4 separate regions of the Homo sapiens genome follow, and regions 1, 2 and 3 are each linked to region 4. Evidence: fine-mapped expression QTL. A gene starts in region 4. Each other region holds a variant in brackets. All regions are shown on one strand. Distances are from middle to middle. Region 1 overlaps PLB1 (phospholipase B1). Region 2 has its middle 33 kb from the start of PLB1. Region 3 has its middle 26 kb from the start of PLB1. Region 4 holds the start of PLB1 (phospholipase B1).

Evidence for each region. PIP is the estimated chance that this variant, and not a neighbour inherited with it, causes the effect.
Region 1: its variant is fine-mapped to the expression of PLB1 in blood mononuclear cells (TOPMed, PIP 0.95).
Region 2: its variant is fine-mapped to the expression of PLB1 in whole blood (INTERVAL, PIP above 0.99).
Region 3: its variant is fine-mapped to the expression of PLB1 in whole blood (TOPMed, PIP above 0.99).

What each region holds. Positions count from the first base shown.
Region 1 is chr2:28,606,426-28,610,587 of GRCh38, reverse strand. It overlaps PLB1 (phospholipase B1), which reads right to left. Exons shown (of 58, transcript NM_153021.5): 43 at 4,021-4,092. Among named protein-coding and RNA genes, the nearest start is that of PLB1, 110 kb to the right of the region's middle. RefSeq lists enhancers at 2,417-3,048, 3,049-3,679, 3,680-4,162 and a silencer at 3,035-3,202. The variant G/A (reference allele first, on the strand shown) is at 2,540.
Region 2 is chr2:28,461,253-28,465,414 of GRCh38, reverse strand. No RefSeq gene overlaps it. Among named protein-coding and RNA genes, the nearest start is that of PLB1, 33 kb to the left of the region's middle. The variant A/G (reference allele first, on the strand shown) is at 2,154.
Region 3 is chr2:28,467,679-28,471,840 of GRCh38, reverse strand. No RefSeq gene overlaps it. Among named protein-coding and RNA genes, the nearest start is that of PLB1, 26 kb to the left of the region's middle. The variant G/T (reference allele first, on the strand shown) is at 1,703.
Region 4 is chr2:28,493,579-28,497,740 of GRCh38, reverse strand. PLB1 (phospholipase B1) reads right to left here and starts at 1,681. Exons shown (of 58, transcript NM_153021.5): 1 at 1,572-1,681. The coding sequence starts at 1,626.

The DNA of each region.
Region 1 (4,162 bases), 110 kb before region 4:
CATGTGTGCAATGAGTGGCTGGAACTGAGAAGACTCTCAGCTGGGTGGTGGCAGTCAGAGGCAGGAGGACATAATGGTATTTCACGGGATGTCCTAAGAGGTTTTCTATCCCATTCCATTCAAAAAGTGCTAGTTCCGGCCGAGTGTGGTGGTTCACACATGTAATCCCAGCACTTTGGGAGGCCAGTGTGGGAAGATTGCTTGAGCTCAGGAGTTTGAGACCAGCCTGGGCAACAGAGTGAGACCCCATCACTATTAATTAAAAAAAAAAAAGTGCTGGTTCTTTACCTACACTGATTTCAGGTGGTAAGAAAGTGTGAACATTTGGGGACAGAGAGCATTAGGACAAATACCTAATGCATGCACAGCTTAAAATCTAGATGACCGGTTGATAGGTACAGCAAACCACCATGGCACATGTATACTTATGTAACAAACCTGCACCTTCTGCACATGTATCCTGGAACTTAAAGTCAAATAAATAAATAAATAAAAAAGAAAGTGTGAACATTTAAGCAGAGGCCATAGGGTGTCTTGGGAGGGATGTGGTAGAAGAATTCCATTATTCTATGAGAGATTGCATCCACAGAAGTCTAAGGCCCTCCCCACTGAGAACCTAAGATTACATAAGTCTATTGTTTCATGGTGGGAAGGTGCGACTAGTTAGCCTTTAACGTACAAAGTGATGAGAATCTGAGCCCCTGCAGTGGCAGTGGGAAAAGGAAGAGGGACAGGTGGGAAGAATCCTATTAGATTCTGGAGGACTGGTAAGAATCCGATTAGATAGGGTCCCTGACATTTCATGCCTGTAGAGCTTGAAAACCCTAATGAAGTTGGCAGAAATAGAGAACTCCTAAGGAACAGAGAGTTTGGGAAGACAAAGAATTAGTTCCTATTTAGACACTCCTTGCTCAGAAAATTATTTTTTGAATGAATGTTAAGCTTGAGATGGTGGTGGGGTCATGGCAGGATTGGATTTAGAAGCTCTGAGCGTCAAAAAGATAACAATGTCACTTATATGTAATTCAATACAGAAGCACTGCTAAACAACAAACTAAGTTTAAGGGAATTTGATAAACTTCGGCTTTTTCTCATAAGAAAAGATAGGGTATGATACATGAACTTATTTCAGCCCCCTCCTGCTTGATCATACATTAATCTGCCTTTTGGGTAACCTTATACCAGATAGAGCATCCAAGGGGAAATGTATTTTAAAGGTCAGAAATAGAGGATTGGAGTTCGGGAAAGGAGAAATGAAGACACAGATTGAGAGACTGAGGAATCCAGCACAAAGAAATTTTACAGGAAATCCTGGAAATGGGTAAGTCTCAGAGTGAGAGGATGTGGAGAGAGAGAAAAGAAAACAGAGGCCGGGCACAGCTGCTCACACTTGTAATCCCAGCTCTTTGGAAGGCCAAGGCTGATGGATCACTTGAGTCCAGAGTTCAAAATCAGCCTGAGCAAAATGGCAAGACCCCACCTCTACCAAAACAAATAAACCAAAATTAGCTGGGCATGGTGGTGCATGCCTGCAGTCCCAACTACTCAGGAGGCTGAGGTGGGAGGATGGCTTGAGCCTAGGAGTTGAAAGCTGCAGAGAGCTGTGATTGCGCCACTGCACTTCCAGCCTGGGAGACGGAGCAAGACCCTGTTTCAAAAAGTGAGTGAAAAAGGAAAGAAAATAGAATGGAGACATGAAAATTGGAGAATATCTACATTTTCAAGACTGGGGAAAGGGAGGAGGAGGGTCATTAAAGGCAAGCAAACAGAAGACCAGAAAAATCAAGGCGATTTAGTGTCCACAAACCCAGGAAGGAGTGAATTTCAAGGGGGAGGTGGTGACTTTTGACAAGGGCTTCAGAGAGGTCAAAAAGAATGAAACCTAAGAAAAGGACCAGGTGTTCAGCCAGCTGCCCTGGGGTTAGGAAAGGAGTGGGCAGAGAGCCCATTAAGGCAGAGTATAGGCTCAGTCCACAGAAGGCTAGTCAAAAGTTGTCTGTAAAAGAATTTGTCCAACTTGAAACTACAACAGAAATCCATGGCGTGCTGTTAAGTCACCCTACCTGGCACACAGAACGTATGAGCAGTTAGACTGCGGATGGGAGAAGGGAGGAGGCTGAGAAAGCTCATGCTCACAGCCATCTCGGCCTCCTGCCTCCCGCCCCCCACTGCGTCTTGCCTGTTGCCTGTTGCCTCTATGTTTAGACACATCTAGGACAAAAATAGGTGCTGCCTGGCCCCTGTCAGCTCACACTGAGATGCTGGTGGACTTTTATATCACTCCAAGGCACATGGGAGGGAGCAGATGGGACTGAGGAATGCAGAATGCTCAGAACACAGTGAAGTTGGGCTGGCCAACAGATGGACCCTTTCAGAATGGGCTCCAATGTTGCTTAGCAACAGCTTCACCAGGGCTGGGCTTCTACTGGTTCCACGAGGCTGGATCTGCTCACCTCTGCAAATCAGTGCAGTGGCTCCATTGGGCTCTGTCTAGAAGGGAGGCACTGAGCCCACTCAGCTTAAGATGCTGCTGGGTGGA[G/A]CAGCCTCCTTTTGGGGGTCTCTGCCTGATCTGGGGTAAAGCCTGGAAGTGGTTGCCTCGAAGCCCAGGGTGACAGGGCTCTCCCTGACCCAGTGCTTAGGCTCCAACTCAGTACTCAATACACGTTTGTTGAAAGAAAGAGCAAATGATGGCTGCTTTTGTTATGTAATGGAAGGGGAGTGGACAGTTTGGAAAGGGCCCTCCATGGCTGATATTCAGTATGGCTATAGGGTTGGTAAAATATTGACATATCTACAATATGGCTATTTCTGAGTCCCCAAATGCCCCCACTATCCACGGTCCCTGGCTGCTCCCCTAGAACCCCCAGGCATCCTTAGGAAAGCAGTTAAAGAGTTTACACCTGGCACAGTAGGGGCCTCTAAGGTTTTGCTCCAGGCCTTTGGCCAGCACCTGACCACCTGGACTAGAGGCATCTGTGTTGCACTAGCTGTTGCAGAATCTGACAATCTCCTTAGCTCCAAGCACAAGACCCAGCAACTGAGCCCTCTGCTACGACTGTCTTCACTTCCCATCCCTTCTTCCTGCCATTCTTGCTCTCCTGATGGGGCTGATGGCACACAAGACTGAGCCTGAGCCCAAGACTGGGGTAGGGCAGGCAGCAGACAGGGAGCAGGCATGTGAACAGGGGTGCCCACTCTCTCAGGATTCCCAGCAGACACATGGGGGAGCTGCAGGTCCATTCCCCAGCAGGGAGGGTGGGAGAGGGTGGTGTGGCCGACCTAGGAGGGAAACCCAGCCTCCCAGATTGGGTCAGGCCTTCTGCTTTTATTGCTGCTGAGGGTTTTCTGGCCTTGGCCTTATTTGGTTAAAAAGCCATAAGACCGGGCCTAGAAACAGGAGCTGAAGACAATGAGAACCTGCCCCCACCCCAGGCCTGAAGTCAAGCTTAACAACCACTTACGGATTCCTCCTTAAAAGGAGCCTGGAGCTGCCGTGTCCTGGTAGGCCCACCCTCGTCCCTCCTCCATACAGCTCTGGGCTCTGCCCTTTGCTGCTGTCCTCTGTGATCCTTTCCTTGTGGAATCTCCCTAATCCAGGCTCTCCTCTCTCCAACCACAGCTCTTAAGCCTGCCTGGCTCCTGCCTGGGCCCTCTAACCTGCAGTCAGATTTTTTCATCTGCCCCAAACACCACTGCTAAGAGAAGCCCTCCTGCCATTTTCCTGGCATCCTGATTTCCTCTCTCAGGAGCCCACTTTTCTCACCGGGATCCTCTCCCTCTGCTGGGGCCCAGGCCTCCTCTCCCTGCTGCATCTCCTGTTCCCAATGACAGCTGCACTCTTGTCTCCCCTCTCACCTCCCCTGTCCATCCTCATGGACTCCCCTCCATCCTCCAAATCTCTCAGGCCTCAGTAAGGGGGCAAGATGGGTACTGAGGAAGCTGTGGTGGAGGACGAAGTGGGTAGGGCGAGCTGTGTGCCCTGGTTTGTGGAGAGGAGCCAGGCAGGTCCTCCCCTACTACCTGAGTGGGACAGGTGATGGGCATCTCTGCTCTCAGGTCCAGGGTCTCTGTTTTGCTTCCAAGTGGTTCAAGCTGATCAGGGAAGAAAAGAGAGACACGGGTGTAGTAGTTTGTTTCCATGGAAGTGAACATTCCCTGGCAG
Region 2 (4,162 bases), 32 kb after region 4:
TAAAGTTTTGTTTCAATACTATGTAAGTCTATATATCATATATGTATGTGCACCAAATTACGATGTAAAATTGGTGAAAACGAGTTTGAAAGCCACTAGGTCAGAGACAGAGTGGGGGCAACCCTGCTCTGTGAGCCAAATCCTGTCTCAGATTAATTTTATCTGGCCAGGGGTGGAGCAAGATGGCAACCAAGTGCAATCCTGATGGGAGCAAGGTGACAACCAGGCCTGGGACCAAGCTCTGATGGGCTTCATTCCTGAGTCGAAGAGGCCACAGCAGAGTGCACAGGCAGATTCCAGACTTTCCTCGGGAAGCTGCTATCCGTTTTCTCAAATGAGGTCTGTGTGTCCCACCATTCGCAGACATACCTCCCCACCGTGACCACCACCATCCTGACACTTGCATATTGGCCACACTCCTCACCCTAGCCCAGGAGGAAGCCAGGAACTTCTGCATGCATCATGTCTTTGGAGTCCACCCCATGGCCAGTCCTGTTCCCTCCATCCCTCCATCTCAGCCCCTTAGTGCCTCTTCCATAAGATCGCCTGGGGTATGGCAATGAATTAGTGGCATAGTCTGTATCCCCTGTCTCCATATTCCTGAATTGCTTAACTTATTGAATAGGTTTCTTTAATATCATCTGCAGACTGAAGGAACTGACAAAAAATGATGGTGTGGATTTGACAGTTGCTATGAATGAGCTGCCTACAATTCTATCTAAGGCTGGCTCTCCATTGGAGCACAGGATTCTGTACTCTCACTTTCTTTTTTTTCCTTTAAATTAGAGATGGGGTCTCTCTGTGTTGCCCAGGCTGGTCTTGAACTCCTGAGCTCAAATGATCCTCCCACCTTGGCCTCCCAAAGTGCTGGGATCACAGGTGTGAGCCTCCACACCCGGCCCAACTCTCACTTTCCTGACACATCAATGATCCCCTCTCAATTATGCCCTCTGGCATACCAACATGATATAATTTTTCCCAATGTCGAAAATCAAAACATAACTTCTCTTGACCTCATAGCCCCCTCCAGCTTCAATCCTATTTTTCTATTCTCTTGGCAGTTAAAATTTCTTGAAAGCTTTCTCCAAACTTATGGATTCAAGTCTTCGTTTCAGTGAGTTCTGAGTCTTCCACTGGAACAAAACTGTTGTCAGTTCACCAAGGACCTTCATGTTGCTAAACCCAGTAGTGAACTTTTCATCTTTATCTTACTTAAGCCATTAACAGCATTTGATACCTTTGGTCACTCTGTCTTTTTTTGAAATACTTTCTTCATTTTGACTTCAAGACAACGCTCTTGTGGTTTTCCTCTTTCGACATTGCCCACTCTTTCTCATCTGCATTCTTACTTCTTCCTCATCATGCTGGTGTGTAAACACTGGAGTGCACTGATCTGGGTTCTGGACCTGTTTCTCTTATGCATCTACACTCACGGCCTAGGTGATTTTACCCACACACATGACTCTTCATACCTTCTATACCCTGTCAAATGTTAAATGATTTATCTCCAGAGCTCCGGGTGCATACATCCAACTGGCTAGTGCACATCTTCACTTGCATATCTTGTGACCATCTGAAATGTAATGTGTCCAAACAAAACTTCTCGCAGTTCTGTTTCCAGGGTAGCATAGTGAGCTCCTGCTGTATAAACCCCTACAGGTAACTACCATAAACTCTGAACAAAATAGGAAAAACAACGACCTGAAGGCCCTGGAGTGTGAACAAAAGCAGGCAGTTTCTGGAGAGGAGTTACTACTTGGAAAAGGAAGATGCATATGCGATGAGTTTCACAGTTTTTATGGCTTTTATCCAAAAGGCAGGCCATGGTAGAGTCACACAGGGCAGATAAAATGATGATAGAAAGTCTGCAGTCCTTCTGGCCTAAAGAATCAAAGGATAGAGTTCGAGGCAACCACAGCCATTGGAAAGTGAGAGGGAGAATCCATAAACAGAGAGACGCAGAGAAGAAGAACCACAAATTCTGTGTATAAACTGTCCAAATCTCTGGCCAATTCCTAGTCCATGCATGCATGAGGCAGGCTCAAGCAGCCCAGATAAGAATGTACAAACTAAACTGAGATTTAAACTGGTGCTCAAGAGATGGTTTACAGCTTGATCCAACCAAGTTAATAGCTTGCTTAAAACAAAACAAA[A/G]TTTAAAAATCAGCATTTGGCCAGACGTAGTGGCTCAATCCTTTAATCCCAGTGCTTTGGGAGGCTGGAGCCAGAGGAGCACTTGAAGCCAGGAGTGTGAGACCAGACTAGGCAACATAGCGAGACACCTCTCTACAAAAAATAAAATTTAAATAAAAATTTAAAAAAGTAGCCAGGCATGGTGGCTACTTGGGAGGCTTGAGGTGGGAAGATCGCTTGAACCCAGAAGTTTGAGACTGCAGTGAGCTATGATTGTGCCACCACACTCCAGCCTGAGTGACAAACTAAGAATCTATATTAAAAAAAAAAAAAAATCAGCAGTTAGGGGAAATAACAGAATCCAGAGTCTCCACAACTTAACAATCATAATGTTCAGAATATCCAAATTATTTCATATATGAAGAACAGGGAAAATGTGATCCATTTTTAAGAGACAAGACAATCAACAGAGACTGACCCTGAGATGACCTAGATATTGGAATTAACAAAATCATAATTCTCAAGTAGCTATTATAACTATGCTTTGCAAGCTGAGGATGATACATGTACAACAAATAAAAAGATAGGAAACCTCAGCAGAGAAACTTGATTTAGAGGAAAACTAAATAGAAATTCTAGAACTGGAAAAGATAATGTTTGAAATAAAAGATTCACCAGTTTGGCTTAACAACAGTGTTCAGATAATAAAGGAGTCAACAACCTTGAAATCAGATCAGTACAAAAAGTATCCAATCACAACAAAGAGAACAAAGATTGAAAACAAACAACAACAACAAAAACACAGAGCCTCAAGAGCCTGTAAAAACAGTATCAAAATGTTTAACATGTGAAATGAAACCCCAGAAGGAAAAAAGAAAGACTACAGGATAAAAGAAGAGAAAATATTTGAAGAAACAATGGCTAAAATTTCCCCTTATTTGGTGAAAGACATGCATTTACAGACTCAAGAAACCCAGCATACCTCAAGTAGGATAAATACAAAGAAAATCTCCCTTAGGCACATCATAGTCCAACTGCTAAAAATCAAAGATAAAGAGGAAATCTTGACACAGCCCAAGAAAAAAGATATGTTACACATGGGGTGGAAAAAAAATCAAATCACTGGTGACTTCTCATCAGAAACCATGGAGGGCAGAAGCCAGTTTTTCAAACCCAGATTTATGAAATATCCTTCAAAAATGAAGGTAAAACAAAGAAATTTCCCCAAAAACAAGAAAACTAAAAGAATTCACCATTAGCATCTTCACTACAAGAAATGCTTAAGAAAGTTCTCAGGCTGAAAGGCAACAATACAGAAGACAAATGTGGATCATTAGAAACAAAGGAAGAGTGTGGGAAACAGTAAAAAGCTAGGTCAATACAAAAATCCTGATTCCCACTCTGACCCACCTAAACCTGCTTTTTCCCATAGACTTGCCTGTCTTGGTGATGGAAACACCGGCTTAATGGTTCCCAGGCAAAAACCATGGCATTCATTCTTTTTCTTACACCCCAACAAGGATTCTTGTTTCTACCTTCAAATTAAAATGTATTCAGAATCTGACCATTTTTTCTGCCTTTCTTTGTCTTCCTGGTCCAAGCCACTGTTTTGTTTTTTTTTTTCTTATTTCTAGAAGAGTTTTGAATACACCTGGATTGCTGCAATAGCCTACTCATTGATCTCCTATTTATTTTATTTTATTTTATTTTGTAGAGGTGGGGTCTCAGTATGTTGCCCAGGCTGGTCTCCTGACTCGCCCTCCCAAAGTGCTGGGATTACAGGTGTGAGCTGCCACACTCAGCCCTGATCTCCTATTTCTACTCCTGGTACTGTACTGGTGATTTTCCACATAGCAGCCAAGGAAACCTTTTAACACCTATGCCAGTTTTTCACTCTTTGCTCAACACTCTCCACTGGCCTTCTACCTTATCAAGGAAAAGAAACGAGTCCTTAGCACAGTCTACAAAGGCCCCGGGTGATGTGGACCCAGATACTTCTCTGATCTTCCCCTCTTTATACACTTCCTCCT
Region 3 (4,162 bases), 26 kb after region 4:
CCAGCACCACAGGTCCAAAACCACATTGGACAGATGTCATCCTGTAGGAACATGTTCCCCGAGGAGGGTCCCTTCAGCCCTAACTAGGATGCCTGGATACACAGACACACAGCACATCCTGGCCAGGGCGGGGGCTGTGGGAAGGATCCAAGCATTGCACTGCAGCTTTTATCACACCTCACCCTTCTCCATCCCCACAACCAAATCGATAAAGGGTCATCTCCTACCTGAACCGTTCACAAACTCCTTTCTCCCTCTTCCTGTCACCCTCACAGCTGGCCTCTTGCTCTCTTCGCTGGCATGATGGGTGCCCTTGGGCTTCTCCCTGGGCTCTGCCAGCTGGACCTTCAGCCTGGGACAAGCCTTTCTAGGCAGTTCATCCCTGAGAACACTGTGGTGGCCACATGAGGGAGGCAGATCCTCCCCCGCCCTGGCTCCCGCCCATATCCCAGCAGGCTCCTCCTCCTGCACTCTTCATTGGCTTCTTCCCTTCCTCCCCTCATCACCGGGCTTCTCCTCAGTGCTGTCAGCTTGGGCCTCTTCCCTTCACCCATGATGCCTGTGGCCTTCTGGAAGGGTCACATGCCCCTCTCCCAGACCCTCAGGGCCCTCCATCCTGAGCCCAAGCCCTCCCTCTAGCCTTAACCTGAAAGATTCCCTCAGAGCCCGCCACATAGTTCTAGGGCCACGCTGCCTCTGTGTCTTCGTTCCAGCTGCACCTTCAGCCTGGAAGGCCTTCCTCCTGCCTTCACCTGATAAGTCCCTTCCTGCCCTCCAGATTCACCTCGAACCCCACCTGTCTCAGAGCAAAATGCACATAAGGGTGCACTTTGGAGTCAGAGACCTTGGCCCTTAATTCCTGCTTGGCCACTTTCCAACCATGTGGACCTGGGCAAGTCACTTCACATCCTTCTGAGTCTGTTCAATGAGTAATAAACTTTCCCAGTTCATGAGAGGAGGGGACGATCCCTAGCTCAGAGGTGAGAATGGAATGAATCAGGTATATGGAGTGCTCAGCACAGCACCTGCTCCTGGTCTGTCCTCAGGAGTGCCTGTCATTGGGGTGTGTTTCTGGTCCCCTCTCACCAACTGTGGAGCTTCAGAACATTCTGAGTCTCTCTGACAGCGCCCAAATTGGACGTTCTTTAGAGCTGGCAAACTCCTCTCAATTAGAACTCTTCTTTGCACCCCTTTTGGTCTTATACAAAATGTTTTTGTTGAATGGAAATAAGGATTCCCCTGTCCTGAAAAGAACAAACACTTCCTGTGGCTGGAAGTGCCCAAAGCCAACAAACGCCTCTCTGCCAGCACCTGCCTTCCGACCCTGAGGCCAGCCCAGCACCTCACCTCACACCTCACCCCTGTGTGTTAGACCACTTTGGCCTTTTTCTGGTTCCTCCTGTGCCTGCAGCAGAGTGACCTTGGACAGGGAAAGGCCTGGCTGAGCAGAGATGACCCCCAATAACAGCCAAAGAAGAAGCTGTGCTCGTGCAACTGACAGAACCTGCCCACCAGCCAGGCTGCTCCTCACAGACCTTCTTCTCGTGCTGTGCAAACAGAATGAATGGTGCCAAAGGCCAGGTGGAGTTACACTATTGGCATGGGAAGAGGCCTAAGGTGTTCATATTTTTGTATGCACAGAACAAAAACTTTGAAAGGATATCCTCCCACTTCCTCCTCCTCCTCCTCCTCTTCCTCTCCT[G/T]CTCTCTTCCTCTTTCTTCTCCCCCTCTTCCTCCCCCTCCCCCTCCTCCCTCTCCTCCTCCCCTTCCTCCTCCTCTTTCTCCCCCTCCTCCCCTTCCCCCTCCTCTTCATCCCACTTCCCCTTCTCCCTCCTCCTCCTCTTTCTTCTCCTCCTCCTCCTCCTTCTTCTTCTTCCTCTTCTTCTTCTTCGATTTTCCTGCTTTAGCTCCATTTTTCAGGAAATTATACATTTCCCATTCTATTTGTGGGCAGGGTGTGTAGCTCACCCTTCCCGCAAGGGGGAACATTTTTCTGGCTTTGTTGATTTCTGTATTATTTCTATTTTTTCAAAGAGATGAAGTGTTTTTTTTTAAACAAGTAAAGAAAAAACAAAACATTGAATGAATAAATAAGTAAATAAATACATGGCTTTAGCCCACGCTCTCCCTTTTCAAGAATTTGCTCTTCCATAAATCCACCTTCCCCCAGGGACTTACTCAGTTTAAGCAGTCAGTGATCTTCCAACTAGTCCCCTTGGGATAGAAAACTGAAGAATTGAGGCCCTGTGGGGGTGGCTGTGGAAATCACACAGCCAGGGCTGTCCCAGTTCCCTGCCATCACTATGACTAAGGCAATGCCTGCTGGCCAGTATCCAGCCAAAATCCCTCCAAGGATGGGGAGAGAAGAGAAGCCTCTCTTTCCAGCACACCCAGAGTGGCCCTGATTGGCTAGGCCAGGGGCACTGGATCAGCATCTCCCAGGCTCAGAGAGTTTCCTTCCTAAGGCCCCAGGGTTCTCTCCCACCAGCTGACCTCAGAGGATCTGCCTTCATCTCTTAGAGATGTGAGAAATCATGGTCCCCAGCAAGCAGGAGGCAGGTTCCTGAGGCTGCTCAGGGCCACTGCACAGCTGACACCTCCTTCCCAGCAGCCTTCCAGCTCCACCTGCAAAGGAACGTGTGAGAACGGGGTCCAAACCGTCCCATCATGCCTGTCCTTCCCCCAGGACAGTAGGTGTCTACTCACAGAAGTCCACACAACTCAAAGCAAAGAGAACCCACTCAAGGCGGTGAGCAGAGTCTCTCCTTATCCAGCCCTCTTCCTAAGAGAAGAACTAAATGACCAGGCAAATCAGAGGTGTCACCACACACAGTGACAAGGGGAGCTCTTGTCCAGCTGGACTGGGCCTCACTTGAAGGCTTATTGGGGAATTAGTTAATCAGCAGTCCAGCAGCCTCCCGGAGCCCCCAGACAAATGGAAAGGACATTTCTGGGGTTCATCTCCCAGCCCCCTTTCCTGCCCTCTACCCAACCATGCCCTTATGCCTCATACTCCAGTTAGACTAAATGCACCCAGCACTCATCATTTATGAGGCTTTGCATACGGTAATTTCTCAGCAGAGACCACCCCCTTCCCTCCCTCCTCCCCCGCCTGGATAACTCTTACTTCAAATGCAATCCGTGCCCCTGGAAAACCACCCTGCCATTTCCCCTAACTTCCTTGGTGTCCCTCCTCTGGCCAGGCCCACTGGCACCCTGTGCCCCCAGAATAGCCCTGATCCTCAGTCTTTTGTGGATCATAGGTCTGTCTTTGTATAGATGCAGGAGTCCTTGAGAACTTTGCCTTTCTATAGCCCCAGTTGCCAGCACCTAGCAGCGCAGCACTGAGTAGCTGCTCAATAAAAATGTGTTGAAGTGAATAAAGCCATGAATTAGAATGTAGATTAAGACCTAGAGGCCAGGAGAGGTGGCTCATACTTAGAATCCCAATATTTTGGGAGGCCGAGGCAGGAGAATTGCTTGAGAACAGGAGTCCAAGACTAGCCTGGGCAATATGGCGAGACCCCATCTCTACAAAAAAAAAATAGTTGGACTGTGTGCCTGTGGTCCCATCTACTCAGGAGGCTGAAGTGGAAGGATCCCTTGAGCCTGGGAGGTAGTGAGCCATGATCCTGCCACTGCACTCCCGCCTGGGTGACAGAGAAAGACCCTGTCTCAAAAAATGTTTAAAATTTAAAAAATTTAAGAAGACCTAGAATTTAAACTCCTCCCATTGGTACAAGGAAGGAGTGAAATGAAGGCTCCTTCTCCTGACATCCCAAACTACATCTGATAGTCTGTTCTGCCTGTTGGCCAGGCCCCAGACCTCCACCTTCTGACTCTATCCTCTCCTTGCCCTTTGCCTCCATGAAGCTCTTTCTAACCACCCTGGTGTCTGAACCCCCAAGCCCTTGCTGCCTGAGCCCTTCACCTGCCACTCGATTGGTCCTGCTTTGGTTCCTGATTAGATGTGGGCCTGATTCTTCTCCCTACCCAGGGCTGAAAGCTCCAAAAAGGCAGCCAGCCTGGCTTCTGCTCCTTTGCCTCCCCCAAAGGAGAGGTGCGGGGTATGGCCCAAAGTCTGCATTTCATAAATTAGCAAAATGGCTGAGTGAATTGATGAATGGCTTAATTTCCAAGGAGGGTTTCACATTATTACACAG
Region 4 (4,162 bases):
TCTCAAAAAAAAAAAAAATAGAGAATATACAAATGGACAACGGTGGGACCACATATGATAACAGAACTCTGAGCCACAGTCTGCAATCGGCCAGGCCAGAGAACCAAACTGCAGCCTCTGCAGCAATCAGCCCAGAATGGTCAGGTTTGGTTAATGACTGCCATCTTCTCTATTTTTTGCTCTGCTTCCAACTCAGGACCCCTCAGAGAAAGCCAGATACACTCCCAACTGGATAACTTCAGATGCCGTGCCTCTAGTCAGCTGGTCCCTGATACCAACAACCTCCAACCAGAGCAGATCTGAAGATTTCCCTTTTTTCCACTGTGAAACTTTCCCACTCCCCTGCCTGCCTTTGAATCTTGGCCAAACATAAGTGATGTCTCGCTACAGCGAGCTCTGAATAAGTAGCCTCTGTTTGTCCTCATTTGGGTAGTCTACATTTATTTACACAAAATTAAGAATTTTGCTCATCAAAAGTCCCCATAGGAGGACAAGCTTCAGAGTGGAACAAGATATTTGTCATATATGTAACCTCCAAAGAGCTAGTACACAGCATATATGGAGAACTCCTAAAAAATCAATAGGAAAAAGACTTCAACAGGCACTTCACAAAAGAGAAACTCAAACAATCTCTATGAAAACACTCCTTGGCCTCATCAGTAATCAAAGAAATACAATCATCCTGTGCAGAAGGCATAGCAAGCATCGTCATTCTCCCCCACGGCTCAGAGCGGTAACTGACTTGCCCCAGAGAAGCCTCAAGCATGGGCTCAGACCCTAGGCAGGCCCAGGACTCTGTCCCATGCCTCCTCCACTCTCTCTGGGGAGTCAAGGGCAAGTGCCTTCTCACTCCAGACCCCGTCCTCTCATCTGGAGAAGATGAAAGATCTTTAAGGCCCTTTTCAGTTTAAAAGATTCTGCCTTCCTAAGCAAAGGGAGAGCCAATGATGGGAAGAAGAGGGGCAGAGAGGGATTGTGGCAGAGGCACAATCTACCCACAGTCATTAATGTTGGGGGGAATGGAAAGCCCTGGCTGGTTGCCCACTCAGTTCAATGAAAGCTCAGCACTCTGTTTAGCAGCACTAAAGAATGTAGGCAATCTTTTAGAATTTATCATCTGGAAATCTGTCTTCCTTTGTCCTTCAAAAACAAAACAAAGCTCATAAATGGTAATAGTAATGATCAAAATGTGCATAGTAGTAGTATTTCCATTTTAAGGATGAAAAAAATCAAGGTCCAGGGAGGTGGAAGAACTTGCCCAAAGCCACAAAGCACAAACAAATAGAATCCAGGGGTTTTTTTTGTACCATGGTACTGCTACCGGACTGCACTTCTCTCCTGTCCCAAGATCTGCCTCGCTCCCGGCAGCCTTTGGGACATGTAACCCTGTGTAGGCAGCCTCTGCATCCCATTCCGCAGGAGGCAAACCAGACTTCTTATTCTTGAACTGTACGCTTTGTGCTTTATCTCTTCAAAAGCACACACTCCTCTCACACACCCATTGCCTAAGCAACATGGGACACCAGCGGGGCTAAACCACTGGTTGTCCTCTGAGCAAAAGGCACGCTTACCTTGCCCCAGAAGCAGCAGCAGCTCCAGGAGGAAAATGCCTGGCCGCAGCCCCATGCCAGAATGCTCCAGGTGACTCGGGCCTCTGGAAGAGCTGCTCCAGCAGATGGATGGGCTATCACACCTCCTCCTGCTTTTATGTTCCTCTGTGTTCTGATAGAGCACCTGTCATAAATTTTACTGTGTTCACCTTTGAAAGGGGGTAGTGGCGGGCTGTAAATGATAAATATTAACACTTAGGCGGAAGAGTTCTTAAGGCAGATGAGTCAATGATGGGTAGCATGTTCTAGTCATAGACACTGACAGACCAGGGCCGCATAGCTGCCTCCATACAGCCTTCCATGATGGTGGGTGCCCAGAAATTGCCGGTGTTCGGGTCTGCTGGGAAGAACGTGGGCCTGGGAATCCCAGGTGCTGGTCGGAATTCCAAATCAACCACAGCTGTGGGAACTTGGGTGTATCCCTTAACGTGGCCTCAGCTTTCTCAGTTGTAAGCCAGGAGATCAAAAGTACCTTGTAACAAATGTAAACCATAAACCTACCTCCAAATGTGAAACGTGTTCCCACCGTGTCTCAGAAGCTCTGCTAGGTTCCCTGGTTTGCATGACACAGAGAGGTTTGTTCTGTTCCCCCCATCTCCAAACCCATGGGTGGCCAGTTGTGTTGGGTGGATGTGCACACCATAGATTTGTTGTCTGCATGTTGAATTCAGAGATACAAGCCAGAGAGGGGGAACCAAGTTTGACAAAATCAGCCGTTTCCTTTGGGTAAACTAAGTCAGGAATGCAGGCTGGGTCTAAACTGGGCAGACAAAGCTGGCATTTAAAGCCTGAGTGACAAATACCCTTGAGAGTAGAATTTAAATTTTTTACACAAATATCAAGAAACAATTGCCTTGGTTGATAGGAACAAATATATTTAAATTATCCTTGCTTTCTGGCCATGCTTGTGGGTGTGAGGCTGGGATCCTGACTTCTGAGGTCTAGCTAAGACTCTAGGGCTGGTTCCCATGACCCAACCTCAGATTCTGATCTCCTGGCTGACCCACTTTTCTCATATTTAAAAATCACAGCCAGACACAGTGGCTCACACCTGTGATCCCAGCACTTTGGAAGGCTAAAGAAGGAGGATTATTTGAACCCAGGAGTTTGAAAACCAGCCTGGGCAACTCCATCTCTACAAAAAATAAAAATAAATTAGCCAGGCATGGTGGCATGCACCTGTAGTCCCAGGTACTTGGGAGGCTGAGGCAAGAGGATTGCTTGAGCCCAAGAGTTCAAGGTTGCAGTGAGCTATGATTGCACCACTGCACTCCAGCCTGGACAAGAGCAAGATTCCATCTCAATTAAAAAAAAATTGTTTTTAATTACTGTTATAACCTCTATTGTCTTGAGTAGAAAGTGAAGACGAAGTGAGTGGCCCTTTGTTCCTGAATCTCTGGTTTTAGGATGTTGTCTCCCTTTCTCAACTGCTCAGAAAATATGTGACTTGTGGGTCACCACTGATTTAGCCAATGCCAAAGGCTTAGCCTAAGCCTCAGGACTGTAGGGGGGTATTGGGACATGCCAGAGGTGTGTGGACACTGACACACTTAGTCCAGCTGGCCATCAGCTAGTTCCAGAGCCTAGAAGAGGGCAGCACACACAGACACACAGAAAAGGAAGAAGAAAATACACCCAAGGCCAAGGTCTGTGGGGGACAAGTGAGCACAGATGCCCCTGGATATGTAGACACTTGTCAACTTCACCAAACTGCCCCCAAGTTCAATGAGAAGCCAGAGCTGCTGTCCCACTAAGGATGTCAGGAGTTTACCCAGCTCCATGCCACCAGCAGCTTTGAGGAGCATCACTGAACTTGCCTGGGCTGAATAGGCCAAGGTCCCCACTCATGTGCAGGCCAGCTGGAGGTGGGGTGGAAAGGACATGGGGCATGCGCAGAAGTAAGTTGGTTCCACGCTCCAGGTACTCGCTCCATCTCTTAACTGCTTCTCTCCAGGACTACCACAGCCCAACTGGGTTACCATCCTTCCTCTAACTCCTTTCACATTTAGAAAAATTGAGAAATGCCTTAAAAACATTTGAATGTTGGGAAGGCATTTTGGTATGGGATAGACTGGATGTCCTTTTAGGTAGAATAAATCTCTGAGTTCCATCCATGCATCAAGGAATCCTCACCAACTGTGAGGCTGTAGGGGAAGCAACATTTCTTAGACACTCTTTTTAAAAATTTTTTTGAAAAACAGAGATGAGGTCTCACTATACTGCCCAGGCTGGTCTTGAACTCTTGGGCTCAATCAATCCTCCCACCTTGGCCTCCCAAAGTGCCGCGTTTACAGGCATGAGCCACGTCGCCCAGCCTCTTGGCACCCTTACAGCATCGCAGCTTAACTGGCACCTACTATTTATGTGGTCTAGTAGCAGCTATGAAAACAAGGGGAAAGTCGTCTGAAGTCAAAGGCTCCATCACTTGTCCATAAACTTTTGTTCTCTGACTTTTGCTAGAAAATGTCCTAAGAGGACATGTCCTATAAAAGGGGATGAGAAATATTCTCCATTTCAGATTTTAGCAATAATCACCCAGGTGCTCCTTTTGG